2 separate regions of the Homo sapiens genome follow, and region 1 is linked to region 2. Evidence: fine-mapped expression QTL. A gene starts in region 2. The other region holds a variant in brackets. All regions are shown on one strand. Distances are between the middles of the regions.

Evidence for each region. PIP is the estimated chance that this variant, and not a neighbour inherited with it, causes the effect.
Region 1: its variant is the best candidate, but not a certain one, in a credible set for the expression of IL33 in nasal epithelium (TOPMed, PIP 0.80).

Annotation. Positions count from the first base shown.
Region 1 is chr9:6,181,183-6,197,311 of GRCh38, forward strand. It overlaps the pseudogene GTF3AP1. Among named protein-coding and RNA genes, the nearest start is that of IL33, 27 kb to the right of the region's middle. RefSeq lists enhancers at 1,200-1,784, 1,785-2,369, 3,844-3,943. The variant C/A (reference allele first, on the strand shown) is at 5,950.
Region 2 is chr9:6,206,194-6,222,322 of GRCh38, forward strand. IL33 (interleukin 33) reads left to right here and starts at 9,614. Exons shown (of 8, transcript NM_033439.4): 1 at 9,614-9,659.

The DNA.
Region 1 (16,129 bases), 25 kb before region 2:
TTTTAATTGGAGCATTTAGTCGATTTACATTTAAAGTTAATATTGTTATGTGTGAATTTGGTCCTGTCATTATGATGTTAGCTGGTTATTTTGCTCGTTAGTTGATGCAGTTTCTTCCTAGTCTTGATGGTCTTTACAATTTGGCATGATTTTGCAGCGGCTGGTACTGGTTGTTCCTTTCTATGTTTAGCACTTCCTTCAGGAGCTCTTTTAGGGCAGGCCTGGTGGTGACAAAATTTCTCAGCATTTGCTTGTCTGTAAAGTATTTTATTTCTCCTTCACTTATAAAGCTTAGTTTGGCTGGATATGAAATTCTGGGTTGAAAATTCTTTTCTTTAAGAACGTTGAATATTGGCCCCCACTCTCTTCTGGCTTGTAGAGTTTCTGCCGAGAGATCCGCTGTTAGTCTGATGGGCTTCCCTTTGAGGGTAACCCGACCTTTCTCTCTGGCTGCCCTTAACATTTTTTCCTTCATTTCAACTTTGGTGAATCTGACAATTATGTGTCTTGGAGTTGCTCTTCTCGAGGAGTATCTTTGTGGCGTTCTCTGTATTTCCTGAATCTGAATGTTGGCCTGCTTTGCTAGATTGGGCAAGTTCTCCTGGACAATATCCTGCAGAGTGTTTTCCAACTTGGTTCCATTCTCCCCGTCACTTTCAGGTACAACAATCAGACGTAGATTTGGTCTTTTCACATAGTCCCATATTTCTTGGAGGCTTTGCTCGTTTCTTTTGATTCTTTTTTCTCTAAACTTCCCTTCTCACTTCATTTCATTCATTTCATCTTCCATCACTGATACCCTTTCTTCCAGTTGATCGCATCGGCTCCTGAGGCTTCTGCATTCTTCACGTAGTTCTCGAGCTTTGGTTTTCAGCTCCATCAGCTCCTTTAAGCACTTCTCTGTATTGATTATTCTAGTTATACATTCTTCTAAATTTTTTTCAAAGTTTTCAACTTCTTTGCCTTTGGTTTGAATGTCGTCCCATAGCTCAGAGTAATTTGATCATCTGAAGCCTTCTTCTCTCAGCTCGTCAAAGTCATTCTCCATCCAGGTTTGTTCCGTTGCTGGTGAGGAACTGTGTTCCTTTGGAGGAGGAGAGGCGCTCTGCTTTTTACAGTTTCCAGTTTTTCTGCTCTGTTTTTTCCCCATCTTTGTGGTTTTATCTACTTTTGGTCTTTAATGATGGTGATGTGCAGATGGGTTTTTGGTGTGGATGTCCTTTCTGTTTGTTAGTTTTCCTTCTAACAGACAGGACCCTCAGCTGCAGGTCTGTTGGAATACCCTGCCGTGTGAGGTGTCAGTCTGCCCCTGCTACGGGGTGCCTCCCAGTTAGGCTGCTCGGGGGTCAGGGGTCAGGGACCCACTTGAGGAGGCAGTCTGCCGGTTCTCAGATCTCCAGCTGCGTGCTGGGAGAACCACTGCTCTCTTCAAAGCTGTCAGACAGGGACACTTAAGTCTGCAGAGGTTACTGCTGTCTTTTTGTTTGTCTGTGCCCTGCCCCCAGAGGTGGAGCCTACAGAGGCAGGCAGGCCTCCTTGAGCTGTGGTGGGCTCCACCCAGTTCGAGCTTCCTGGCTGCTTTGTTTACCTAAGCAAGCCTGGGCAATGGCGGGCGCCCCTCCCCCAGCCTCGTTGCCGCCTTGCAGTTTGATCTCAGACTGCTGTGCTAGCAATCAGCGAGACTCCGTGGGCGTAGGACCCTCCGAGCCAGGTGTGGGACACAATCTCCTGGTGCGCTGTTTTTTAAGCCCGTCAGTATTCGGGTGCGAGTGACCTGATCTTCCAGGTGCCGTCTGTCACCCCTTTCTCTGACTAGGAAAGGGAACTCCCTGATCCTCTGCGCTTCCGAGTGAGGCAATGCCTCGCCCTGCTTCCGCTGGCGCACGGTGCGCGCACCCACTGACCTGCGCCCACTGTCTGGCACTCCCTAGTGAGATGAACCCGCTACCTCAGATGGAAATGCAGAAATCACCCGTCTTCTGCGTTGCTCACGCTGGGAGCTGGAGACCGGAGCTGTTCCTATTCGGCCATCTTGGCTCCTCTCAGGTGAATTTTGATCTACCATTAAAACAAGGTGCCAGGACCGGATGTTTCGTAACAGTGCTCTCTCTAACTCTTAAATAACAGATAGTTCTAATCCTATTTAAGCTCCTTCATTTATTTTATGAAGTCAGCATAATCCTAATTCCAAAGCCAGATGGAGAATATAAAAATGTAAAACTCTTACAAATGAATCTAGATACAAAAATTCTAAATAAATTATTAGTAAACAAAATCTAGCCTCTAATAAAATGAATATTACCAAGTTGTGTATATTTTAGGAATGCAAATGTATGATCTAAAATCAATCACTTATCACTCATTACAACAGCAAATTAAGGAAGATAAACTACATAATCATATCAACACTTGCTGAAAAGGTGTTGATAAAATTCATCCATCTCCCCTAATAAAACCTCAACATAACATAGAAATAGAAGGAAATCGATGAAAAAAAATGAATGGCAAGTACATGAAATATAATAAGCTCTCATTCATTTAATATATACTTAAGTAGTTCCTAGTACCAGGCACACTCTGGTGATACAACAGTGAACATGATAGATACAATCTGTGCTCTGCAAGGCTTACAGTACAGTGGGAGTGACTGGAAATTTATTGGAGGCTTTGATGTGGAAGAAGGATATGGAAATCCATGAGAAAACACTATGCTTAGTCAGGGCCATGTGACAATAGAATTTCTGCAGACAGTGACAATTAAATTGAGATCTGAAAAGTGAGAAAGATGTATACAGATTAAAGAGAGGTTGGTTGGAGAAAATATTTCTGGGATAGAGAATAACCCTTACAAAGGCCTGGATAGGAGAGAACGAAAGTAAGTTGAGTATGGCGAAAGTACAGAGCAAGAGCTCAGGATGAAGTGTGTAATACAAACTGCGAAGAAAGGCTCAGCCCAGATCAGGAAGGCTTTGGAAGCCAAATTTAGGAGCTTGGACTTTACCCTACATGCAATGTGAAGACATGGCTGGGTGTTAAGTAGAAGAGTTGCACTGGTTCTTTTGTTTCCCATACCTCCAGATCCATTCTCTGCCCTGGAAATCAGATCCCCATAGGGTCTGTCACCCACTCTCCCTTGCCTACTGGCTTCCAGATGGGTTCAGCCAATGCGGTGCCTTTTCCCTGGGTCCCCTTGCTTCAGTGCTACACCCGATAGTAAATGTATCCCTCCTTGAACACAGGTCCTGCCAGGCAGCCCTTTTGTGGCTCCAGCTTTCACTGAGTAACTATTTCTTGTCTCTTCAGACCTACAGATAAATATGGCTTCCCCTGTTTCTAGTCTCTTTCATTCTGCCCACACCTCTGTAAGTAGCCCTTTCATCAAAGCTTTTCATTTGAACCATCTGAATTAAAGTCTATTTCCTTTTGGGACCCTGACTGATACAGGCATGATTAGGTCAGATTTGTGTTTTATAACAATCCCTCTGGCTGCTTTATGGAAAACAGATTGGAAGATGGCAAAGACCGGCTCCAAGGAGACCATTAAGGAGGCTGCTGTAATTCTGGAGGTAAGAGAGGATGGTGGCCTGGGCTCAGGTAGCAGAACTGGGGTTCAGGAGTGAGGAGTTTAACTCCTGGCCAAAACCGTATGTGTGATATTTCAGGCCCAGCCACAGGCAATTGCAAAGGCTTTGCCTGGAAGGCCTCATAGGAAAAGCTGCCCTTCCCACACCAGACTTGGTACAGAGCCAATGCATTGCAGTGTCTGAGGAGAGTTGCAGTCAAAGATTCAGGCCTCCTGGCCAGCTATGCTCTTATACATATCTGCATTCATGGCCCAGGCACCTCCATTTGGAAGTCTTCTTCTTTTCAGGGAAGCTTGAAGACACTTTACCCACTCTGACTCAGTACTCGATATTTTCTACTTGCAGCCCTCCCATTCTTCCTCACTTCTGGCTCCAGGGTCCATAAAACTGCAGGTGCCTTTTGGTTGGAGATCCCTAAACAGTGAGTTGACTCCACCAACACACTGTTCCACTGGGGGAAATGAAACAAAGGGGAGTCAAGGTTTGACTGTTACTTTCATTTTGGCTATTTTTAATCAGCTACTCTAACGCCTGAAAGCTTAGCTGAGTGGCTGATGGAAAGAAGCATGTAGATTCCAGAGATATTTGGACGATAGAGTTGACAGGATTTGGCCATTTATTAGATTGGGGGATGGGGTAGGATAGAGAACAGTGAGGGAAAATAAAAAGCCAAGGAAACTGCATAGGTGATTTGGGCAATAGAGTGGATGGTGGTGCCATTCACTGGACCATGAAACAAGGAACAGGAGCTGAGTGGCAGGAAAATACTTTCATCTGGGGCATGACACTTCAGAGAAGCCTGTGGGTCATCCAAGGCAGATATTCAGAAAACAGCTGGATATGTAAAAAGGAATTTAGCGGAGAGGTCTGAATTGTTATGTAGATTTGAGAATCATTCATTAATAAATGGTAAGTATAGATATTGGCATGAATAAAATGAAGCTGGGAGAATACATAGAATGAGAAGAAAAGATGGCCTGAAACTGAGGCTCACCATGGTCTCTTTTTAGACTTGTCCTCTTTTGGTTCTCTAGATAATTCTCCAATGATATGTTTTTCTATGACCCTCTCAAAACCTTTCTTAAACTTACTAAATAAAATAGAGACAGCAGGTTATAATGACAGAGCTTGGAACATTATAGATACTCAGTAAATGTGCACAACCTTCCTTTCTAACTCTGTATTTCTCAGGATTGTGTTAAGAATCCTGAGTTAATTAAGGTTCCTGGCTAAAGACAAAGCTATGTCTAAATGAAGGCAGCTGTTATCATACTTGCAGGTGCTATATTTCTTTAAATAATGAGTTTTATATATTTACTGTAAAGGATTCTTTTAGTTCACATATTATTTCTCCTAAACAGCAAAGGATACCACCTTTAAACCAAACCAAACCAAGTCATGCCTCTGAGTGAAGTTGTAGAATAATTTTTTTGAAACTTTAACATTTTAATTTTCTATTAGCAAGCTAAAACAAAGCAGAGGCTAAATTCCATAGTCTCCAGAAATATGGGGATCGCTATATGTAAGTGTATTAGTCCATTTTCATACTGCCCAAGACTGGGTGATTTATAAAGAAAAGAGGTTTAGGAGCCAGGCACGGTGGCTTACACCTGTAATCCCAGCTACTTGGGAGGCTGAAGCAGGGAAATTGCTTGAACCTGGGAGGTGGAGGTTGCAGTGAGCCGAGATGGCGCCACTGTACTCCAGCCTGGGTGGCAGGGCGAGACTCCATCCCCAAAAAAACAAAACAAAACAAAACAAAAACAAAAAGGGAAGGAAGGAAGGGAGGGAGGGAGAAGGTGAAGGGGAAGGGGAAGGGGAAGGGGGAGGAATAAGAAAAAGAAAAAGAGGTTTAATGGAATCACAGTTCAACATGGCTGGGGTGGCCTCACAACCACGGTGGAAGGCGAAGGAGGAGCAAAGGCATATCTTGCATGGCAGCAGGCAAGAGAGCGTGTGCAGGGGAACTGCCCTTTATAAAATCATCAGATCTTGTGAGACTTATTCACTATCATAAAAACAGCATGGGAAAAACCTGCCCCCACGATTCAATTACCTCCCACTGGGTCCCTCTAATGACAAGTGGGGATTATGAGAACTACAACTCAAGATGAAATTTGGGTGGAGACACAGCCAATTCATATCAGTAAGTTCATCCTGAAAGGCTGAGAGTAAAGCTATCATAAAGATGGGGATTTCCTGCTTTTCTCATTCTGTTTATATTTTTACATCCTGTTTTGTCTAAAGTGTTCTTTTGAAACAAAGACCTGGAAAGAAGTCCAAGTAGACTCTGACCTCTCTTGCATCTCCTGTACCCATATTGGAGGTAATACATATCCCATACTTCTATGAAAAGAATGCAGGT[C/A]TTGGAATCAGGCTGACTTGGGCTCAAATATGAACTTCATCACTAACTAGATATGTGAGCCTTAATTCTTCTGTCTTTGTAATGAGAACTTCTTTGGGGTTCTGATCTGGATTAAACAAAACATTGTGTATAAAGCCCCAGGCACATAGTAGGTGCTCAACATAGTAAGTGCTCAATAAGTGGTAGCCACAGTGATATTTATTATGAAGTGGGCCAGACTTTGGGAGGAAGAAAGAAGGTAAAGAAAGATATAGACCAAATGGGAAGATAATGTCATGGCTTTAATTCACTTTTCATGGAAATTAGAAGAGATTGTGAGTAACAGAAGGTCACTTGGGGAGCTGTCCAGGGTGCAGAGGATGCCAAGAAATATTTATCTGATTGAAGAAGAGAGTTGAAAGTTCATTAAAACTTCTGTTTACATTTGAGCAAAACCTGCTCTTAATAATTACTCTCAAAAGTTGCAAGCTAAAGTAACTAGATAATTCAATAAATATATAGATACCAGGTCTGAGGCTCAGAAGGACTGTCCAGGGTGGGTCACCAAGCTCCAGGCCACCAGACTAGCGACAAGAGTTAGGCTGCAATTCCCAGGAAGGAAGAATGGAAGCCATTATCCCAGAGGAATATAGAATAGGCTATATTCTATAGGGTGGAGGGAGGAAAGTAGAGAACAGTACCTGGTAACAGGGACTGCAGGGGTAGCTGGTTTTGTTTGTGTGTTTTCTGCTCAGGAACAATTTCCATATCTTTGGGTGACAGATCCCTATTTTACTTTGCCAAAATTACCTCTCCTAGTGAAGGTGCAGGCCTTCCCAAGGTTACCAATTCATTTTCTTCCTTTGAATGTTGAATCTTCAGTAGATATTTAAAAATGAAAAATGGTTAGTATGAATTCCTCTGAGCTTTGCAGCACTCATCCCGGGGACACTGACTCACAACACAGTTTATATGAAAAGAGGGGATGCTCATCATCCCCTGAAGTTCAAGACGAGGCTGAGAAACATAGTGGGACTCTGTCTCTACAAAAAAAAAATTCTAAAAATTAGTCATGCTTGGTGGCACACACCTGTAGTGCCAGCTACTCGGGAGGCTGAAGCCAGAGGATAACTTGAGGCCAGGAGGTCGGGGCTGCAGTGAGCCATGATTGCACCACTGCACTCCAGCCTGGGTGACAGAGTGAGACTTTGTCACAAAACATAACAAAACAAATAACTAAATAACAAAACAAATAACAACTCCCTGGGAAAGCTGACTTTTAGCTTAATTCCTGCCCTTCAATATTCTCTATATTGTAAGGTGCTAAAAATTTACAAACTAGATTCCCAAGTTTCCTAACTAGGTAGTTTCCAGTTAGATTTTCCCAAAGGCAGGTCTCAGAGAAAGACCAGAAGGCAAAAGGGAGAAGCTATTTTATCCTCCATTTTCTGTTTCTGGATCTGGCAGTAGCCACAGGCAGCCACAGGATCCAGACGTCTTGGCAGTGAGTCCAGTAACATCAAGGGGACTATGGGCTCCCAAGTTCTTGCAGCTTCTGTAAATGTGCAAATTCTCAGCCTCTTGAAAGGTAACAGCAGCAGTGGTTTCAATAGCAGCAGCAGCAGCATTAACAAAAGGATGCTGGCAACCTCAGCAACATAGCTCTTTTGAATTCTGGGTACCATCACTGGCCCTTTTTGCCCCTCCTTGGATTTTATTCTCTCTGTTTGAATGCCTAGAGAAATTCTGCCTTTCTAATTGAACACCAATTAATAACTGAGAGTGATTTACTATTACACTTTTGGTGGGAATGTTAACACATGAGTACAATCAGTAAGATGCAGTACAATTGAACAGACTTGTGTTTAAACCAGGCTCCCCCACCTATTAGCAGTGTTATCTTAGGCAAATAACTTAACCAAACCTCAGTTTTCCTTATCTGTAAAATAGGGATGATAGAATCCCTCATAGGAATGTTACATAAATTATGACGTAACGTTTTATATGTAATGATATAATGTATGTAAAAAGTACCTGGCACAAAGGCGTTCAACAAATTTTGGTTTCCTACATCTCTTTCACCCAGCACTTGCTTGGTTATGGCTTAGGTGCATGAACACAGACACATTCCAGAGATGTTTGACTCAGTCAAGCTTCTATCAGGAACTAGGGTACAATAGAAATGGATTACATGAGGAAGTCAGATATGGAGGAAAAATGAAGTAGTTGCTGACAGGGAGTGTTAAATGGGATTTCTAGAAAGGACACTTCTCAGAAGAGAAACATGATGCACAACAAATTTTAAACCCTTACTTAGTGACAGCCTAATTCAAATCACAAACATAGGTCTATACTCAGAAAAATTATGTTCGTACACACTCTTTGGAAGAGAGAAACCCTGGCTGCTGGTCTTATTGTGGATACCTTCATAATTCACTTGGAAGATGGAACAGATTATTATTATTATTATTATTTGAGACAGGGTCTTACTCTGTCACCCAGGCTGGAGTGCAGTGGCACAACCTAGGCTCACTGCAACCTCCACCTCCCAGACTCAAGTGATCCTCCCATCTCAGCCTTCCAAGTAGCTGGGACTACAGGCACGTCACCACACCCAGCTAATTTTTTGTTTTTTGTTTTTTGTATTTTTGATACAGACAGCATTTCACCATGTTGCCCAGGCTTGTCTTAAAACTCCTGAGCTCAAGCAGTCTGCCTGCCTTGCCCTCTCATAGTGCTGGGATTACAGGCATTGAGCCACCGGACCCTGGCCAGAAGATACAAAATTATTTTGTATCTGTCCGTGGAGACATTTCACACTTATTATAATTTAGTATAAGTCATGGTGAATGTAAAGAGACAAATATGGCTTTTCACAAGGTGCCCCTTTGACCCTTCAGAGCACTAGATCTCTAAAATGAAGTATTTGGAGTCCAAAAGATATAAATAAGAATAAGAGGTCATGATGGTGTCTTCATGAGAAAAGATTGGGAATTAAAGATGTTTATGCTGAAATAGAATTATAAGATACTAGTAGTGGATGATGCTTTAAAGACTCTCACCTCTCATATTTTAGATCAGAGAACCTAAGCTCAGAGGAGGAAACTGTTCTTAAATTACACAAAAATTTGGAGGCAGAAATGTCACCAGGTTTCTTATATCTGGGAAAGAGACCAAAAAAAAGGTATTATCCTTCTGGAACAGTCTTGGCCAGAGCCTTTCTCCTCTAAGAGTGGGACTGGACAATGGAGCCAGGTCAGTGGTGGGTCTGTGCCATTGACTAGTGGAGAGCTCCCACATAAAAATATGCCACCCTTTGAGTGCAGCCACGGATGTTACAATCTAGTATTGAGTAAATGGACACTTGATTTTACATATCTCCTTCAATATATTTCATCATAATATTAACTGTCATAACTACAAATTATCAAAAATTCCCTACTTTTGAAAAATGTACATAAAATGAAGAATGATGGCTCTCCTCTGTCCTAGCAAGGGACAAAGATTGGCCTAGAAAGCAGGTCTCTTGATATCCAGTCCGATGTCCTTTCCAGTTTCCCCAAAATAATAGTAGCATTCAAAGGTATTAAAATATAGTGCCTTACATGGGTCCAAAAGGCAGATTTTGTTCTTGCTTGAAAAGAGAGCTGTAATAAATAGTCTAAATTTCTAGCAGGCATAGTAGAAGAACCTAAGGTAAATGTTTTAATTTTATGCTAATGGTTACTAAGGATTATCATAGAATTACCATTTTTGGGGAACTTGAAAAATAGGTGTGACAATTTGAGGGATGAAAAGATAACCAAAAAATAAATTTAGCTCCTGCTGTTGCCACTGAATGTGATGACAAATGATACAGAGAGGTCATTCTCACAAGACCTAGGCTAGGCCAAGGAGAATGAAGAGGAGACATCACACCAGCATTTAACTTAAGAAATCAGCTGTGTGGGTGGCTGTTGTGGTTGCTTTTAACGACTAGTTAAAAAAAAAACAGATTTATTGAAATAATTAATAATTCACATACACACAATTCACCCACTTAAAAGTGAACAGATCGATGGTGTTTATACTATATTCACAGTTGTGTAACTTCAGCCAGAATATTGGAATATTTTCATGACCTCAGATGAAACCCCATACCCATTAGCAGTTCCTCCCTTTCTCTCCCTTCTTCCCACCCCAGACCCTGGCAACCACTAATCTACTTTCTATCTCTTTGGATTTGCCTATTCTGGACCTTGCATATAAATGGACTCACACAAAAAACTCACTGATACGTAGTCTTTCGTACCTTGCTTCTTTCACTTAACATAATGTATTACAGGCTCCTTCATGTTGCAGTATGTACCAGTACTTCATTGCTTTATACTGTCGAATAATATTCCATTGTGTAGAGCGTATACTGAGGAGTGAATAACTGGGTCATATAAGAACTCTACGTTTAATCTTTTGAGGAACTTCCAGATTATTTTCCAAAGTGGCTGCACCATTTCACATCCCTACCAGCAAGATCTGAAGGTTCCAACTCTCCACATCTTTTTCAATACTTGTTATTATGTCTCTTTTATATTTTAACCATCCTATCATGTATGAAGTGATATCTCACTGTGGTTTTGATTTGCATTTCCTGATAGATAATGATATTGACTCTTTTCATTTATTGTTGGCTATTTGCATATTTTCTTTGAGAAATTGCCTTTTTTTGAAAGATAGTTTTGCTGGACATAAACTTGTTGATTGACAACTTTTTGTCTTTCAGTACCTTCAAAATGTTACCTTCTTGCCTTCTGGCATCCATTGGTTCTGATGAGAATTCAGCTGTAAGCATCATTGGCATTCCACTATACATGATCAGTCCTTTTTCTCTTACGCTTTCAATATTTTTGCTTTGGCTTTGGCTTTGAACATTTTTACAGTAATGTGTTGTGTGTGGATTTCTTTGCATCTATCTCACTTAGAATTCATTGAGTTTCTTAGATATGTAGAGTAATAATTTGTATGAAATCTGGGGACTCTTCGACCATGAATTCTTTGAATACTTTCTGCTCTATTTTCTGTCTCCTCTCCTTATAGTACACCAATTACACTTATGTCTGCACGGTTAATGGTGCTCTGACACTTTTTTCCCATTATTTTTCTCTCTGTTCTTGAGATAGCTTAATCTCTCTCAGTCTCTCTTCAAGTTTACCCATGTTTTTCTTCCTCCAAAACCAACAACTGAAGGTACCAAATAGAGAATAAAAACAGATAGATACTGAGGGAAGTCAATGCTGGGCAGAAAAGAACAGACATCAACTCCCATTTTGCGTATGTGTGTTTTCACCATGTGGGGTGGCTAAAACTCTTATAGAAAATCCTAGTTTTACTGGCTTAAGAATCAGAGAAAAGGACTTGTGTTTGGGGAACTAGATCCACTGGAAAGTGAAGAAGAAACTCCCAGAAAGGAGAGAGCCAAACAATGGGTCTCATATTCTAGGTACAAAATTTTCCCAAATCTCTGAGTGATCCTTGAACATGACTATTGGGGAAAGACTCAAAGCAAATTAGTTAAAGTTAAAGGAATTGAAGTAAAATTTCAGCTACACTCATCACAGTGGAAATACAGTGTTACAGTTTCATTCTATAAAAGTTAAATATATGCTTAAAATCAGTACTATTCAGAGGAACATTCAGATTCCGGAATTTTTACAACACATCATTCACAATATTGAGGATGCAATCCAAAATTATGCAACATTCAGGCCGGATGCAGTGCCTCACACCTGTAATCCCAGCACTTTAGAGGGCTAAGGCAGGCAGATCACCTGAGGTCAGGACTTCAAGACCAACCTGCCCAACACAGTGAAACCTCATCTCTACAAAAATACAAAAATTAGCTGGGCATGATGGTGGGTTCCTGTAATCCCAGCTATTCAGGAGGCTGAGGCGGGAGAATCATTTGAACCTGGGAGGCGGAGGTTGCAGTGAGCTGAGATTGCATTATTGCACTCCAGCCTGGGCAACACAGCGAGACTCCATCTCAAAAAAAAAATTATACAACATTCAAAGAAGCAGGAAAACATGACCAATTCATAGGAGAAAGATTAATAGAAAACAAGCTAGGATGACCCAGATGTTGGCCAACAATTATTTAAAACTGTATATTAAAATGATGCTCAGTAGTAAAAAGGAAAATATGCTCACAGCTAATAAAAAGTGGGAAATTTCAGCAGAAGAAAAGAGATTATTTTTTTAAAGCCCAAATAGAAATTCTAGAACTGAAAAACAAAACAGCTGAAATATAAAATTAACTGGGTAAGCTTAAGAACCAAATGGAATGATGGAGGAAAGAAACAATGGACTTACAAGTCAATAGAAATTATCTGATTTGAAGAAGGCAGAGAAATAAATTTTAATTAACAGAGCCTATGGATCTGTGAGACAATTCAAAACTGAAGACCTGAAAGAAGACGAGAGAGAGAATTGAGAGGAAAATCATGGCCCAAATTCCCTAAACGTGGCATAAAACATATAGTTACAAATTTATGAAGCTTAGACAGAATTAGTAGAAAAAACACTCCTATTTACATCATAATCAAACTATGGAAGAAAAATATTTGAAGACAAAGAAAAATGACACATTGAATACAGGGAAACAATTAAAATGATGGCTGCTTTCTCATAAGAAGCAATAGAAGGGGAGTCACAAGACAGTGAAACAGAGTTCATGTCCTTTGTAGGGACATGGATGAAATTGGAAATCATCATTCTCAGTAAACTATCGCAAGAACAAAAAAACCAAACACCGCATATTCTCACTCATAGGTGGGAATTGAACAATGAGAACACATGGACACAGGAAGGGGAACATCACACTCTGGGGACTGTTGTGGGGTGGTGGGGGGGAGGGATAGCATTGGGAGATATACCTAATGCTAGATGACGAGTTAGTGGGTGCAGCGCACCAGCATGGCACATGTATACATATGTAACTAACCTGCACATTGTGCACATGTACCCTAAAACTTAAAGTATAAATAATGAAAAAAAAGAAAAGAAAAAATGTACACCAATAAATTAAATAACCTAGAAAAAATATTAAAAAGCATAATCAAACTAAAAAAATAAATAAATAAATAAAGTACAAGGGAAAAGCTTGTCCACTTGGAATTCTGCATTCAGCAAAAATGTCTTTCATTATTGAAGGTGAAATAAGAGTATCAGGGAAAGAAAAATAAGAGAATTTATAACCACCATATCGGTGGTGAAACCAAACAAACAAACAAACAACAAAACTGAAATAAATTCTTCTAGTCTAAAAGGAAATAAACCTTCCTATGTGCCAGGGCCCACCTTAGGCACGGAAATACAAGTTTGAGTATAATGAGGTTCACCATGGAGTTTATAGCTTATAGATGAAATGGAAACCAAACATTGTACTTCATGGCAGTACCAATGGGAGCAGGAATGCCTGGCCTCAATAACAATAGGAGCCAGAAACCACACATGTATTTACTAAAATGTCTTTCAAGAGGGCACACCTGTAAGTCTCTGCATTTTGCCACTTATACAACTTCATCTTTGAGCGCTTACATAGGGTCAGATTACCTAACAATAGCTGTAAGCCAAGACAAAATTGGAGGAGGAGAGAATTAGTAGATACCTGATACAGGATATAAGGGCTAAGCTTTAGATTTTTCTATCCTGACTCGATCCAGGGTATTTGGTTTCTATTGTTTTTCACTAAATAAAGATAGGTCTTTCAACAATCCCAGCTTCTGTGGAATTAGCTGAAAATAAACCAAGAGCTAGAGACTCAAAGTATTTACAGTAGATACATTTGAGTAGGTATATTGCTCAAGTCACACTGTAACTGCCCAGTGGGTTCATTTTGCCTGCTGCCCAGATAAACTCAATTTATTAAGACAGAGGAATTGTAATAGACAAAGAGTTTAATTCATGCACAGCCAGCTAAACAGAAGACAGAAAATTCAGAGATTGGAGTTTTTTAAGGGCAATTTGGCCGGTAGGGGGCCAGAGAATGAGGAGTGCTGAGAAGTTGGGTTGGAGATGAAATCACAGGGGGTCAAAGTGGGTTCTTCTTGCTGTCTTTGGTTTTTGGACAGGATTGCAGAACTGGTTTAGCCAGATTACTGGCCTGGATGGTGCTAGCTGGTGCATCAGAATTTTAGGGTCTGAAAAACATTTCAAGCACTAATCTTGGGTTTTACAATAGCGATGTTATCCCTAGGAGCGACTGGGGAGGTTTGGAATCATGTGGCCCCTGGCTGAGTGACTCCTAAACCAAAATTTCTAATCTTGTTGCCAATTTGTTCGTCTTACAAAGGCAATCTGGTCCCCAGGCAAGAAGGACATTCATTTCTGGAAAGGGCTGTTATCATCTTTGTTTCAAAGTTAAACTACAAACTGAAGTCCTCCCAAAAGTTAGTTTGGCCTTTGCCCAGGAATGAACAAGGGCAGTTTGGAGGTTGGAAATAAGATGGAGTCAGTTAGGTGAGATCTCTTTCACATCATAATTTTCTCACTGTTACAATTTTTGCAAAGGCAGTTTCAATACCACAGTTAGATCAACAAATATTTTGAAAATGGGAAAAAGGGCCTTTTCAAATTAATTTTTTAAAGAGATAACCCCAGAAGGTCTTGTATGGGGTGGAAAAGCAATAGGAAAATTATATAATATGATGATTCTGTGAAACTAGTGGGTCAGAAATAAGTGTTTACAGGCCAGGGCCTGGTGGCACCAGAATGAGCTCTTGGAAGTAGCTGGCTTTGTGTGTTGGGTCCATATGCTGGTGCACCCATGTGGCTGCATACCTGATCTGGGTGGGTGCCGAGGCATTGTCACCCCTGAGCATTGCCTAGGCATTTCTCGTGGCCCGCTAGAGACCAGTCCCACTCCCTTGTCCCCTCCTTCCCCTGCACTCTCTAAGAAGTTCATCTGCTCCTTCCAGGACTGTATGTAGCACCAATTACAATAAGGTCCAGATGCTTGAAGAGCACCTATGCAAGCACACGAGGAAGAGACCATTCATTTGTGACTATGAAGGGTGTGGCAAGATTTTCCTCAGGGTCTACCACCTGAGTCACAACATCCTGATTCATATGGGAGAAAAGCTGTTTATGCACTAGTGGCTGTGACAGAAAATTCAACACAAAATCAAACTTGAAGAAATATTTTGAACACAAAGATGAGATTCAGCAAACAACATATATGCAATTTTGAAGGCTGTAAAAAGATCTTTAAGGATCAGTAGCTGAAAATCCATCAGTGCCAGCATACCAATGAACCCAGAAAGGATGTGGGAAATACTGCCTGACCCAGCAGGCTGAAACGACACACGGAGGTTCAGGAGGGCTAGATGTCAAAAGAGATGTTCCTTTGTGGCAAAAACATGGGTTGAACTTCTGAAATATGTGAGGAAAAAAAACCCATATAGAGGAAATAACATGTGAATATGGCAGAAAATTTTTAAACACAAAGATTATCTTAAGCAATATATGAAAACTCTTGCTCCAGAGAGAAATATTTGCCAATGTTCAAGAGAAGGCTGTGGTAGAACCCACATGACTGTATTTAATCTACAGAGCTGTATCCTCTCTTTTCATGAGGAAAGGCACCTATTTGTGTGTGACCATCCTGGCTGTGGCAAAAGGTCTGCAATGAAAGTCTCACATAGACATACCATTGCAACAAGAAGAAAATTAAACTCAGAGTAAAACCAACTCATGAAAAACGGAGTTCGGTGGGGTGTAATGGCTCATGCCACTTTGGAAGGCTGAGGCAGGCAGATCATTGAGGTTAAGAGTTTGAGACCAGCCTGGGCAATATGGCAAAACCCCGTCTCTACTAAAAATAGAAAAATTAGCTGGGCATGGTGGCGTGCGCCTGTAGTCCCAGCTACTCGGGAGGCTGAGGCAGGAGAATTGCTTGAATCCGGGAGGCAGAGGTTGCAGTGATTCCAGTCACGCCATTGCACTCCAGCCTGGGTGATGAAGCAAGACTCCATCTCAAAAAAAATAAAATAAAAAGAAAAGTACAAAGGGAGTTTGGCCTCTGGTCTCAGTGGATATACCCCTTCTGAAAGGAAACAAAAATAAGGTTTACCTTTGTCTAAAAATAGAAAGACACTGAACTGTACTAGAGACGTGGTGCAATAACTTAAACCTCAACTAAATATCACATTACTTTGTTTAAAGGACT
Region 2 (16,129 bases):
CAAAACCTGGCAGAGACACAACAACAACAAAAAGAAAATTTCAGGCCAATATCCCTGATGAACATTGATGCGAAAATCCTCAATAAAATACTGGTAAACCGAATACAGCAGCACATCGAAAAGCTTATCCACCATGATCAAGTCGGCTTCATATCTGGGATGCAAGCCTGGTTCAACATACGCAAATCAATAAATGTAATCCATCACATAAACAGAACCAATGACAAAAACCACATGATTATCTCAATAGATGTAGAAAAGGCCTTTGACAAAATTCAACAGCACTTCGTGCTAAAAACTCTTAATAAACTAGGTATTGATGGAACATATATCAAAATAATAAGAGCTATTTATGACAAACCCACAGCCAATATCGTACTGAATGGGCAAAAACTGGAAGCATTCCCTTTGAAAACTGGCACAAGACAAGGATGCCCTGTCTCACCACTCCTATTCAACATAGTATTGGAAGTTCTGGCCAGGGCAATCAGGCAAGAGAAAGAAATAAAGCGTAGTCAATTAGGAAAAGAGGAAGTCAAACTGTCTCTGTTTGCAGATGACATGATTGTATATTTAGAAAACCCCATCATCTCAGCCCAAAATCTCCTTAAGCTGATAAGCAACTTCAGCAAAGTCCCAGGATACAAAATCAATGTGCAAAAATCACAAGCATTCCTATACACCAATAACAGACAAACAGAGAGCCAAGTAATGAGTGAACTCCCAGTCACAATTGCTACAAAGAGAATAAAATACCTAGGAATACAGTTTACAAGGGATGTGAAGAACCTCTTCAAGGAGAACTACAAAACACTGCTCAAGGAAATAAGAGAGGACACAAACGAATGGGAAAACATTCTATGCTCATGGATAGGAAGAATCAACATCGTGAAAATGGCCATACTGCCCAAAGTAATTTATAGATTCAATGCTGTCCCCATAAAGCTACCATTGACTTTCCTCACAGAATTGGAAAAAACTACTTTACTCTTCATATGGGACCAAAAAAGAGCCTGCATAACCACAACAATCCTAAGTAAAAAGAACAAAGCTTTAGGCAACACGCTACCTGGCTTCAAACTATACTACAAGGCTACAGTAACCAAAACAGCATGGTACTGGTACCAAAACAGATATATAGACCAATGGAACAGAATAGAGGCCTCAGAAATAACACCACACATCTACAACCATCTGGTCTTTGACAAACCTGACAAAAACAAGAAATGGGGAAAGGATCCCCTATTTAATAAATGGTGTTGGGAAAACTGGCTAGTCATATGCAGAAAACTGAAACTGGACCCCTTCCTTATACCTTATACAAAAATTAACTCAAGATGGATTAAAGACTTAAATGTAAGACCTAAAACCATAAAAATCCTAGAAGAAAACCTAGGCAATACCATTGAGGACATACGCATGGGCAAAGACTTCATGTCCAAAACACCAAAAGTAATAGCAACAAAAGCCAAAATTGACAAATGGGATCTAATTAAACTAAAGAGCTTCTGCACAGCAAAAGAAACTATCATCAGAGTAAACAGGCAACCTACAGAATGGGAGAACACTTTTGCAATCTATCCATCTGACAAAGGGCTAATATCCAGAATCTACAAAGAACTTAAATTTACAAGAAAAAAATGCACAACCCCATCAAAAAGCGGGCAAAGGATATGAACAGATACTTCTCAAAAGAAGATATCTATGCAGCCCACAGACATATGAAAAAATGCTCATCATCACTGGTCATTAGAGAAATGCAAATCAAAACCACAATGAGATACCATCTCATGCCCGTTAGAATGGTGGTCATTAAAATGTCAGGAAACAACAGATGCTGGAGAGGATGTGGAGAAATAGGAACACTTTTACACTGTTGGTGGGAGTGTAAATTAGTTCAACCATGGTGGAAGACAGTGTGGTGATTCCTCAAGGATCTGGAACTAAAAATACTATTTGACCCAGCAATCCCATTATTGGGTATATACCCAAAGGATTATAAATCATTCTGCTATAAAGGCACATGCACACATATGTTTACTGCAGCACTATTCACAATAGCAAAGATTTGGAACCAACCCAAATGTCCATCAATGATAGACTGGATAAAGAAAATGTGGCACATATACACCGTGGAATACTATGCAGCCATAAAAAAGGATGAGTTCATATCCTTTGCAGGGACATGGATGAAGCTAGGAACCATCATTCTCAGCAAACTAACACAAGAACAGAAAATCACAGAAAATCAAACACCCCATGTTCTCACTCATAAGTGGGAGTTGAGCAATGAGAACACATGGACACAGGGAGGGGAACATCACATACCGGGGCCTGTCAGAGGGTGAGGGACTAGGGGAGGGATAGCATTAGGAGAAATACCTAAAGTAGATGATGAGTTGATGGGTGCAGCAAACCACCATGGCACATGTATACCTATGAAACAAAACTGCACGTTCTGCACATGTACCCCAGAACTTAAAGTATATAAAAAATTTAATAAAATAAAATGTTGGGCTAAAAACAAACAAACAAACAAAAAACAAACCAAAAAAAGAAAATGGGCACTCTTGTCTAGTTTCTCATCTTAGGAGGAAAGCTTTCAGTCTTTCATCATTGAGAATAATGCCACTGTGAATTTTTCATAAATGTCCTTTATCAATTGAGAAAGTTCCCTTCTTTTTCTAGTTCATTGAGGGTTTTTATCATTAAAGGGTGACAGATTTTGTCAAAAGCTTTTTCTGCATCTATTGAGATAATTATATGGGTGGGGTTTTTTCCTTCATTCTATGGGTGTGATTTATTACATTGATTGGTTGTTATATGTTGAACCACTCTTGCATTTTTGGTATAAACCTCACTTAGTTATGACATAGAACCTTCTTAGAATGTTGCTGGATTTATGCAGCAGTTCTTATAGGGCAGGTCTACTAGTGATGAACTCCCTATGTTGCCCTGTTTTTCTTTATCTGATAACATCTTAATTTCTTAATGTCTTACTTACTCTCTCATTTTTAAAGAATAGTTTTTCCAGATATAGAATTTTTGGTTGACAATGTTTTTCTCTCAGCCTTTTAAATATGTTGTCCCACTGTCTTCTGGCCTCCATGGCTTCTGAAGAGAAACTAGCTGGTAATCCTACACATGAGTATCCCTTATACATAGTGAGAAACATCTCAGTTGCTGCTTTCCAGATTTGCTTTTTGTCTTTGGCTTTTAACCGTTTGGTTATAGTGTATCTCAGTGTGAATCTTTTGAGTTATCCTGCTTGGAGTTCATTGAGTATTTCGAATGTTTAAAATCTTGGTTACTAATCAAATTTGGGACATTTTTACCATCATTTTGCCAAATATTCTCTCTGTTCCATTCTCTCTCCTTTCCCTATAGGACTCTCATTGTCCACCTGTTGGCATGCTTGATGATGTCCTACAGGCCTTTTAGACTCTGCTCATTTTTTTCCCATTCTTTTTGCTTTCTTTTCCTCGGACTGGACCATTTCAATTAACCTATCACTGGTTCTTGCTTCTGACTGCTCAAATCTGCTACTGAATCCCTCTAGTGAATTTTTTATTTCAGTTATTCTACTTTTCAACCTCAGAATTTCTATTTGGTTCCTTTTTATAATTTATATCTATTATTTCTATTATTGATATTCTCTATTTGCAAAGACATAATTTTCATGGTTTCCTTTAGCTCTTTAAATATATTTAAGACAGCTGATTTAAAGGCTTTGCCTAATAAGTCATATATCTGGTCTTTCTCAAGAATGATTACTGTCACTTTTTAAAGTCCATACTTCATTGTTTGAGTGTCTCATAATTTTGTGTTGAAAGGTGGACATTTTGCACATTATAATACAGTAACTCAGGAAATTCAGTTCTCCACATCCCCATGGTTTGTTGTTGTTGCTTGTAGTGGGTTGTTGTTATCTGTCTGTTTAGTGACTTTTCTAAAACATTTTTCTACAGTCTGTATTCTTTGTTATGTGTGGTCACTGAAGTCGGTGTTCCATTAGCTTAGTGGTCAGCTAGTGTTATGACAATGATTTCCTTAAACAACTAGAGCCAAAAATAGAAGCTGAAGAAAGAAAAAGAAAAATTATTCCCCTAGTGTTTTCAGATTGGCTCTGTGTTGGGACATGCCTTCAACGCATAGCAAAGCCATTTACAACTCTGCTTTGGTCTTCACTTCCTGCTTGCATGGAACTTGAAAGTCAGCCAGAGGTGAAAGCCTGGGGTCTTCTCAGGACTTTTCTGAACATGTCTACCTTCCTAGCAATGAGTGTTGTCTTCTTGATTCCCCAGTATATGTGGGAACTTTTCAAAGTCCTTATTCCCCTCATGTATCTCCTTTTCTAACCTCTTTCTTCCCTGGCTTTTTTGATATGTCTATTGCTTGTTCTGACTGTTATCCCTTGCCCCAGGCTGCTGCAGCCAATACTTTTACCTTTTAATGCCTTTGGCAAATGCCACCTGAGAAGCCATGCCAGCCCTGGAAACACTTTGAATCAGATGAAACAAAGGCAACTCGTCACACTAGTCCTTAAGGGAGCCCCCAGACAGGCTGAAACACACAATCACAATTATTTGAGAAAAAGGTCCATTTAGTCCCTCTGGCACTAGCAGCATGCACCTGGAATATGGGCGACCATCCTGATAACTGCCATTGATCTGGGGGATGGCAGATGAGGGATAGCAAGTAGGCAATTTAAAATGCCACAGCACTCTCTTCTGCAATGCATCAACTTCTTCTTTCTTCATTAACTTTTCCATGGCTGTCATAAGCTTTCGACTATATGCAGAGTTCTGTGAAAGTTGATTTTGACAGTTTTCGCCAGCTTATTAGTTGTTTTTGCGGAGAGATAGACCTTGAAGTTCCTTATTCTGCCATTTTTGGTGACATCAATTGAAATAATTCTACAACTGACTTGATAGATAAGAATATGTTTAATTTTGCAAATGTTCCATGTGTGCTTGAAGGGAGTATGTATTCTCTGCCTGTTGTATTGTGTTATTTATATATCCATGTGTCCCAGCTCATTGTGTCAACCAAAATTTCTATATTCTTCCTAATGCTTTTCCTGCTTGACAACGTTGCTAAGACATAACAAATTTCCCATTAGGATAATAGATATTTGTATCTCTCTCTGTAATTACTTTTATTTTCATTTTATGTAGTTAAGACTGTGTTAACAGGTGTTTGTGGGTGGGGATTTATTTCTTCCCAATGAATTTAATTTTATCATTATTCAGTAGCCTCTGTTTTGTTTTGTTTTGTTTTGTTTTGTTTTGTTTTTGAGATAGTGTTTCACTCTTGGTCTATGCCTAGGCTAGAGTGCAGTGGTATGTTTAAAGCTCATTGTAGCCTTAAACTCCTGGTCTCAAGCACTCCTCCTGCCTCAGCCTCCCAAGTAGCTGGGACTACAGGCATGTGCCACCATGCCTAGCTAATTTTTAATTTTCTTTTGTAGAGACAAAGACTATATTGTCCAGGCTGGTCTCAAATTCCTGGGCTCAAGCAATCCGCCCACCCCAGCACCCAAAACACTGGGATTACAGGAAGGAACCATCATGCCCGATATATTGGTCAGGGTTCTCTAGAGAGACAGAACTAATAGAATAGATATATAAAGGAGTTTAGTAGGTATTAACTTACAGAATCACAAGTTCCCACAATAGGCTGTCTGCAAGCTTGAGGAGCAGGAGAGCCAGTCTGGGTCTCAAAACTGAAGAACTTGGAGTCTGATGTTCGAGGGCAGGAAGCATCCAGGACAGGAGAAAGATGTAGGCTGGGAGGTTAGGCTAGTCTCTCTTTTTACATTTTTCTGCCAGCTTTATATTCGCTGGAAGCTTATTAGATTGTGCCTACCATAACTAAGGGTGGATCTGCCTTCCCCAGTCCACTGACTCAAATGTTCATCCCTTTTGGTAACACCCACACAGACACACCCAGGATTAATACTTTGCATCCTTCAATCCAATCAAGTTGACACTCAGTATTAACCATCACACCTGACCAGTAACTTCTTTGTATCTTTAGTATATGTCTCTTTAAAACAGCATTACATGGATCTTTTCTTTTCAAGTCTAAGTATCTTAGCTTCTTCGACTGGCACCTTTAGTCCATGTAATGAGATTATTGACATATTTGTGTTAAATCTATCATGCTTTGTTTTTTCTCTTGGTATTACCTTTACTATGCTTTTTTGTCTCTTCTTTCTTGATTTCTGCTGGATAGACTGCTATTTTTTTCTCATTCTGTTTTTCTCCTCTAATCATTTGGAAGTTAGTTATATGTCCAATTTCTATTATTCTGAATTTTTTCTAGAAATTTAAAAATGAATACAGAGCTCAAAATTCAGCAATATTTTTACCCTCTTCCTGAGCAATACAATATACTTGAGAACTCTCATTCCTATCATCATCTCTCCAGACATATAGGCTATTTTTGTAATGTATTTAGTTCTAGTTTGTTTTTCTTAACCTTACAAGATATTATTGTCAGTATTTACCGTTAATATGTCTTAGCATTACCTCAATATCTATCATACTTTTGATTCTTCAATTCTGCTTATATTCAGGCCTACCATTTGGGTTCACCTTCCTCCATGTGAAGTATACCCTTTAAATTTTCATTTTTTAAGGTCTGTTGGTAGCAAAACATCAATTTGAACTTTCTTCCTTTGGGAATAAAATTGTGCAACCAGATCAAGTATATGTCTATGAGTCAGCAAAATTTTAGACAGTCACCCATATACCTTGCATCTACCCTGAAAGGAGGAAGTTAATAAGGCAGATTTGGGATTTGGGAAGTAGTGGGGTTAGGGATGAAGAACTATAAAAGTCACAAAACCTGGGGTAACCATATCTCAGTGTTTTCCTATTATTCTGGTCAAATGATTAATAACATTCTTTTCATTCTCAAAAATTTATGATTCAGATAACAAATTATACGATTACTAGAATAAAGTCTGTATGACCTAACCCTTAGTCGTCCTGCCTTCTAGAGCCATGCTTTCATCTTCATTCAACTAGCTACTTGAATAGCATGGAGTAACTTGTGGCAGTCCAATATTACCATTGAGTACAACCAGAAAGGCAGATCAGGAGAGAGCTGCTGAAGCACGAAGGATGAGGGGCTAAGATTCCATGGAGAGATTAGCTAACAGTAGTTAGCTACTTTTTAATAGTTACGAGAGCATTGGCCAAGGCAGGGAATCTGTATTTTACCAAGGTAGGAGGTCACTGCCAGGAGACAGAGAAATCACTGTTGATCGGTGTTGTGGGAATGAAGAGACAAAATTGGAAATTGGAAGGGCCAGGCCCCCAGCAAGAAGAGAGGGCTGGAGAACTGAACCTACATATAATGAGTTTCCTCTTCAAAACACTTGCCGAATTACGCAGCTGCATGGGGGCAAAGGCAAAAAAAAAAAAAAAAAAAAAAAAAATCAGCCTCTTAAAAGCAGAGCTGTGGTTTTAGCAGCCTTTTTGGTTTTGTTCTTGTTTCATAAAAAGTCAAGAGTTATAGTTCATGACTGCTGGGAGAAAATTGAATAATTTTTAGAAATTGTTTCATCCAGGCCAGACACAGTGGCTCACGCCTGTAATCCCAGCACTTTGGGAGGCCAAGGGGGGCAGATCACGAGGTCAGGAGATCGAGACCATCCTGGCTAACACAGTGAAACCCCGTCTCTACTACAAAATACAAAAAATTAGCCGGGCATGGTGGCGGGCGCCTGTAGTCCCAGCTACTCAGGAGGCTGAGGCAGGAGAATAGTGTGAACCTGGGAGGCGGAGCTTGAAGTGAGCTGAGATCACGCCACTGCACTCCAGCCTGGGCGACGGAGCGAGACTCCATCTCAAAATAAATAAATAAATAAATAAATAATTGTTTTATCCAAAAAAGAGCATAAGCCAGGGGGACAAAATAGCAGAGAAAAAAAGTAAGATAGTAGAAGCAAATTCAAATATATCAATAATTACAATAGATGTTCCAGTTCAAAGACAAATTATTGTCAAACTGGGAAAAAAAACCAGTATACTACTTATATGTGACACATCTTTAATGTAAGGACACAGAAAGTTTGAAAGAAAAAAGATGAAAAGAGATACACTATGTGAATACTAACCAAAAGAATGTTTGCAAAGCTCTGCTAATGGAGAAAGCAGACAAATGGACAAAGCAGACTTTAAGGCATGAAGCATAATTAGAGATAAAAAGAGAAATTTTTGAAATAATGAAGGAGGGTTCAATATACATAATAAAGATACATTATTCATCCTTTGTAATTTCCTCAGTATTTGCAAGAATTCCCAGAGTAGAGTATGCTAATATTCCCTTGGCTGTTACTTGTCACCCCTCCCTCCTATTTATTGCACACAGCTCAATTCCTGATTCATTCTTGTCATGTTGGCATCCTGTCCGCTTGCTTCACTGCTTTATCCAAAGGGCAGACATAGCCATCTTTCTTCATTACTCACAAATGCAACACTATGGCTTGTAGCAGATGATTGCTCAGGTTTGGGGATGATTAAAGGGGATTACTGCACAGAAAATGAAACAACTTTAAACAAGATAACAGAGTTCCTTAGTTGTTTTTTCCAAAGGGGACTCCATCATAGTCACATTTTCCCAAGCCTGGTCAGCCATCTGTTGCTGTCTCATTTTCTCTTTCCCCTGGATTCCAGAACCCTAACATTCTATCCTTCAACATGCCATGAGAAAAACTAAAAAATTCCTATTTCATTTTACAGTAAACTTTTTTCTGCTGCCCCTTTGTTTCAAGGTCACCCTTCTAATCTTGTAGATTGAATGGATGTAGAGGCTTGCTAGGGTAACAGTCCATCACAATATCCTTCTAAGTACAGCAGCAGTCTTCCTTCCAATGTGTGATCTTAGGATGTGGAATCAGTCCAAGTCTTAAAAGAGCATTACTTCATCCCTTTATTTTCTGCTACAGATGCCAAACGAGATGGAGAGAGGGTGAGTAGGAGCAAAATTTCTCATGAGGTAAGAAGAACAACTTCTCATGGGATCTATAGTACAGGATTTGCTTTTGTGATAAAGTATTATCTTCTGCGAGATTTTTGAGATGAATAGAAAGAAAAGATGAACAGTGGGGAGCAGGAAAGCCCGTCAGATATGTTGGAATACAGAGTATTTCAGAGCTTTTATTTGCAGACGAGCTGCTTATTACTGATAGGCCAAAGGGGGTCGCAAATTTCTATTATAAAGGAATTTGGAAGAATACACTGATCTCTTAATGAAGTTTGTAAATTAAGAAGCCAACGGCCAAAAGTGAATATATAAATGGCAACAGAATTTCAAAATGGACAGTGCTGAAGTTGAAGTTTAGGAGTTCAACTCCAAAGAGAGCCAAAACATAAAGTTTAGGGGCAGAAGAAGAATCATAATTGCTGGTTTAAAATATTCAGATGGAGGGAGGACGCAGAAAGTAGTGAGCCTTAGATGTTGACAGAATTGTAACTCTGTTGGCTCTTTACATGAGATTTCAAGCCTGCTAAAATCTCACCCGCCCAGATCTCCCTTCTAAGGCAATTTGGGTCTCTGCCAAACTTTGGCTAATAAAAAGAGTCTACAGACTCCTCCGAACACAGAGCTGCAGCTCTTCAGGGAAGAAATCAAAACAAGATCACAAGGTAAGACTGAATATTCTGGGAGATTTTTAGTCAGATTTTGCAAAGTTAAACCTTGGGAACCATGGAGAACTGTGTTTTTTTTTTTTTCCTGAAAAATAAATGATAAGGCCAATTTGTTATTATTGCTAATAGCAGTAAAAGTCAATGACAATAGCTGTTACTAACTTATAATTCCATTTGCTTTCCTTTGGGTGATTTGTAAAATTAATAAATTGCTGAAAGAGATTGTAATAGTTTTTATAGTAAATTCTGCCCCCTCCATGAAACTTTATTTTATTTTATTTTATGTTTTTTAAGAGATGGGATCTTGCTCTGTAGCGCAGGCTGGAGCACAGTGGCGTGATCCTAGCTCACTGCAGCCTCCAATTCCTGGGCTCAAGCAATCATCCCATCTCAGCTTCCCAAGCAGCTGGAACTACAGGCACACGCCACTATGCCTGGGTAATTTTTTTAGTTTATGTAGAGATAGGGTCTTTGCTTTGTTGCCAGGCTGGAAACTTTATAAAGCAAGTTGATAATTCTACTTCTAACTCCTAATGCTTACTCAAGACAAACATGCTTGCAATTGTTTACAAGTGGTTTTCAGTAAAAGGGGGACATCACTAAGTGTGGTGGTTCAAGCCTGTAATCCCAACACTTTGGGAGGCCGAGGTGGGTGAATCGCCTGAGGTCAGGAGTTTGCAGCCAGCCTGGCCAAGAGGATGAAACCCTGTCTCTACTAAAAATACAAAAACAAACAAACAAAACTAGCTGGGTGTGGTGGTGGGCACCTGTAATCCCAGCTACTCGGGAGGCTAAGGCAGGAGAATCGCTTGAACCCAGGAGGTGGAGGTTGCAGTGAGGCAAGATCATGCCATTACACTCCAGCCTGGGTAACAAGAGCTAAATGTCATCTCCAAAAAAAATGATGGAAACTTTGAATAAAAAATAGCTTCACAAAGAGGATTAGAGATGCACTAAATGAAGTAGTTTGGAATTGTTCTTTAGTTCTTTTTTCTTAATGGGACCTGACCCTGGACTTTAATCTCTGATCTGCACAGACAAAACCAATTCACTGAAACCATGGCATGGCAGTGAAGAGTTTAATTGACACAGGGCCAGCCAGCCATGCCACAGAGGATTCAAAGTTATTATTCAAATCTCCCCAAAAATTTGGAGGCTAGGGTTTTTCAAGGTTAGTTTGATGGGCAAAGGGCTTAGGGGAATAGGTGCTGCTGATTGGTTGGGAATAAAATCACAGGCATGTGAAAAATGGTCCTCGTGTATGCACTGAGTCTATTTCTGGGTGGGAGCCACAGAGTAGTCACTGGTCATCAGAAATGCAAAAGCCTGAACAGACATCTCTGAAGGTCAATCTTAGCTTATACAATAGTGATGTTATTTACAGTAGTCACTGGGGAAGTTGCAAATCTTGTGACCTCCAGAATCATGGCTAGTAATCATTTTACTATGCCTACATCTTAGCAGAATTCAGGACCCTCTCAAACTCCTAACTTGGTGGTCTTTCATTATTTTTACCAAGGTGGTTTACTTTTGGTGAAGGGTTATTATCATTTAAACCATACCCTAAATTTCTCCCAAAGTTAGCTTGGCCCAAGCCCAGGAATGACCAAAGGCAATATGGAAGTTAAAAGCATGATGGGGGTTGGTTATGTCAGATCTCCTTCACTGTCATAATTTTCTCACTGTTATTTCTCACTGTCAGTTTCAAATACAAGAATTGAGAGGTACCACCCCCTCAAAAATAAACTTTTGTGGAAAAACAAGGAATTGATACCCTAAGTGGAGAAATTCAAAAGCTCATCAGTTTTGCTACTATTCTTCATTTACAGACTTTCCTTTGAAGATTGTTTTCTTTTCTTTATTCCTTGCTTTCTGCCTCCTCACAATTTTCTCTGCCTTTTCTTTCCACACATGAATATATGCCTCCAGACTATTTTAATTAAGAAAATAGCACAAATCCAAAAGTATGTCCTGTGGCTGCATACAAGTCAGAGACTTGAGAGTGAAGTGTCTAGGGCAAAGACCCGTATTTCCTCCTCTGCACTGTGCTTCTCCCGCTGAAGCATCCTTCTGTGCCACACTGGGGTCCTATACTGTTTCCAACAGTCTTACTTATTGCTTCTCAAATTTGTCTTTTGAATACTTAATGCTCCTCTTTTGATTTCCACCCAGAAAATGTACCTCTCTGAGTTCAGAAAACTTCAGAATCCTCTATTTCCCAAAGTTTAGGGTGATTGAACTGAATCACACAGCTCGGTATTGTCTGAAACAGTTAAGAACTTCTAGCACAAGCATCGCACTTTCCTCAGCTCATATTTCACATTTTCTCCATTCTTCTCTGAAAGGATCCTGGACCTTCTACCAATCTTTGATTGGTTACTTCATAATTGATTTCTTAAGTAACCTAGATGTTTATCTCTTTCACATCATTGTTTAGCTTACAGTATCTACAGCCAGAAAGCACCTCTTTCCCTTTCCCATTTATAGAGAGAAAAGAATCCTGAGGCAAACTTTCACTTAGGGATTGAAATAGCCAGAACTGAAAACAATGGAAGAGATTGAGAAACAGGAAATGTCACTCTTGGCCAGGGTTTCCCAGTGATTAAGGAAATAGAGCTTACAACTAACTTCGGGGAAATAGGCATGAAATTCAATTGTGAAAAGTTAAGCTCCATCAGGGAATTAAATCATTACAGGGAAATACTGAAGAAGGGTCAGCATTGAGATAATATATATATGCATATATATATATACACATATATATTCTCCCTATATATATATTTTTTCTCCCTATACATATGTCCCCATATATATATCCCCATATATATATGTTCTCCATATATATATATGTTCTCCATATATATATATGTTCTCCATATATATATATGTTCTCCATATATATATATGTTCTCCATATATATATATGTTCTCCATATATATATATGTTCTCCATATATATATATGTTCTCCATATATATATGTTCTCCATATATATATATGTTCTCCATATATATATATGTTCTCCATATATATATATGTTCTCCATATATATATATATATATATATATATATATATATATATATATATGTCTACATCAGAAAATTTATATGTCAGTAAATCTGATACCATAAGGGTTTTTCTGGAGATGTCAGTCAGACTGTGCCAAAATCAATGTATCTTTCATTCAAGTTGAAATTTTGGCAAACATGGTGGAAATCAAGAGGTTCATTGGAATTCACCTTCTTTGTATCTCAGTTTGTAGCAGGAACATTTAGAAACATTAAGACCAAATATAAACTCCTGAAACAGCAGAAAGAAAGGGACCTTAATTCTATCAACAACAAAATGATTGGGTTGGGTTCAAGAACTTCAGGAAATCATGGTAGAACGTCTAATCTCTTCGGTTTCCTGTAGATTCTCTGGTGCTGATGTCTGCAAGCAAAAGTAACTTTTAAGGGGACACAACCTTAGTGGGCCTCAAAAAGTTCAGGCAAAGTTCAGTATGCAGGGAGTGGTAAGGGGGAGTGAGGAATTGGGGGCGCTTCCTCCCTATAGCGGACTCCTGGCACATGCTGCTCATGTTATTATCGGTAGATTACAGTATACCTACGAAGGTATTTATTTTTGTTTTGTATTTTTTAAGTGAAGAGTGCAGTATAGCATAATAGTAAAGACACAAATTTTTAGAGGCAGTCAGGCCTCCAGTCCATCATCCATCATTGACCAGCTGTGTAATTTTGGATCTTACTTAACTTTCCTGAGCCTGAATTTTTTTCTCTTGTGTAAAATGTGAAACAAACAAGCAACAAAATCCCACTCAAGACAGGTGTTGTGATGGGTAAAACAAGTTAGAAGCAGTCATCAAAGGTAATTTATTAATCACTGACCATTTACTAAAAGTGAGACATTTATCTTCCACATTATCCCTCACAGCACCTCTGTGAGGTAAATATTATCTCCATTTATGAAATTGAGACAGTGGGATTTGAAAAGATTTTAATACTAACCCAAAATCATAAAGTCAGTAAATTTCAGATCAGAGATTAAAGTCCAGGGTCAGGTCCCATTAAGAAAAAAGAACTAAAGAACAATTCCAAACTACTTCATTTAGTGCATCTCTAATCCTCTTTGTGAAGCTATTTTCTTATTCAAAGTTTCCATCATTTTCAAATATGAAAATATTGATGAAGTGACATTAAAACCTTCTGTCTATTTCCTTCAGGGCTACATTCACCTTTTGCCCTAGGGAAAGAGTTCCTGCCAGCCATTGTTCTCTTCTGTAACTTTTTTTTGCCATTCCCATTGCTATTTCCAGAACTAAGAAGTTCACCCACAAACTTGGCTGAGCGCTTTACTTTTAATCAGCACCCAGTTTACATCTAATTCCCCTCCACTTTGAACATTCCATAAATTAAATGATTGTCATAATTTTCCCTAGCCATATTAGTGCATCTGAGACCTTTTGCAATGGTAAGAATGTTTTGCTCATTATTTCCGACATAGTTCCTAGCAAAGATTCAATATTTCCTTAGAGTTTAACAGAACTTCATAGTTTTGTGTGTCTGCTGTGCTCAAATCTCAGCCACTCTAACTTCTTAGCCTGCTGGCTTATTACTGGCAATTGTTTAAGAAATGCTATTTAAGCTGTTTGTAATTTCTTTTTAGGGGACTATATGCTTTTCTCCACTTGTTCTTTTCTTTGGAGAATTATTAGACCCAAACATGAACTTCCTCAAATCTGAATTTATTAGTTCCAAAGTTTTTCCTCCCTAAATTTTATTTTTCCATTATCTCTTATACATATATATTATTTGTCCACATTCTTTAGCAATCCTGTTTAACAATACTTGATCAGTAGTCAGCATAACTGCTTCATATTTGTAAATTATTGTTATTGTTATTATTATTATTATTTATTTTTGAGACAGAGTCTGTCACCCAAGCTGGAGAGCAGTAGCTCGATCACAACTCACTGCAGCCTTGACATCCGGGGCTCAGGCTATCCTCCCACCTCAGCCTCCTAAGTAGCTGAGACCACAGCCATGTGCTGCCTCACCTGGCTAATTTTTTTACATTTTGTAGAAATGAGGTCTCACTATGTTGCCCAGGATGATCTCAAACTCCTGGGCTTAAGTAATCCTCCTGCCTCAGCCTCTCAAAGTGCTGGGATTACAGGTGTGAGCCACTGTACCTGACCCATAATTGTTAAGTTTCCTTTAGTAATATTTCATTCTAAACTTTTGAACAAGTTTCAGGCACAGAAATAAGTACCAATATTCATTCTGATGTAATTTGGTGACTATCTCCAGCTTCCTGTTTTTTCCCCCATAAGAAAAAAGGTCCATATTACCTGCACGTATGGTGGCATTATTTTTTCTTCACTGACTTATTCAAGAGCCATATGGTTTGTGGAAACTTAATCACAATTGTCAGTATGTGGTGGTCATTTAATATAAAAAATTAGATGCTATTAACTCAAAGGAGTATAAGCTGTTTTACAAAAAATGTTTGGAGGATACCGTGCCTAGGACCTGACAGGTAATGCTTACATCTGGCTGTCCAATTATTACTACTTTCCATTATGTCAAGTGGAAGAATTTCTGCTCAGTGCTATAAGGCCCATGAAAGCAGATTCAACATTTAGAAGCATTAAGGTCATTTGCACTGTGATGTGACAGAAAAAAATATTTTTAAGTCTTTATATTTCTTAATTCATAAAAGTATAAAACTTAGAAGTCTATTATTTTGTCAGCATCCAATTTTTTTCTAGGCATTTATGGCAAAAGCTGGTAAAAGAGCATCTGGGTTTAGACCCGTTGGTTCTCCTTACTATCTAGGTGGAACCATGCAGCAACTAGTAACCTCTAGAATGGCAGTTCGCTGTACATATTTTATGAAAAGTGTCTTGGCAAAGGAAAGGCTACCAATTATATTTATTTCTCTGTGCATCAGTGGGTACACTCAAGAAGAAGTCATATCTGTCCAGAGTGGGAAAATAATTTAGCCTTATCTTTGGGGAGAAGAGAGGTGTTTAACAGAGTCTTTTCATTTTAGTAGCTTTCACACTAAGCCCAGCTACCAGGTAAGTAAGGCTGAGCCAACTAAGAATTCCACAGAGAAATAATGAAGTCAGCAATTTGGGGAATAGCTGGAGTAGCCCACAAAGGAGGCAAAGTGAAAAGCTTGTCATACCATGGTGGTCAAGCTTCCAGACCTTTGAGTTGCATTTTTAGATCACCGCACAAGGCAGTTCTGTTAAAACTTTATGGAAATGAAATATCCAGGGTGCAGATTGTGGCTTATTTTATTCAGATAAATGACCAGGAAGTTTCATATCTATGAGAAGAAAGCCTCTGTACTCTTCAGTTTTAAATGGCTTGTAATAATCAAATTTAATTTCATCTAACAATGTTGTGTGTTAGCAGGCAGCCATTTGGTTGTACAATAAAATCTCATGCTTTCTACC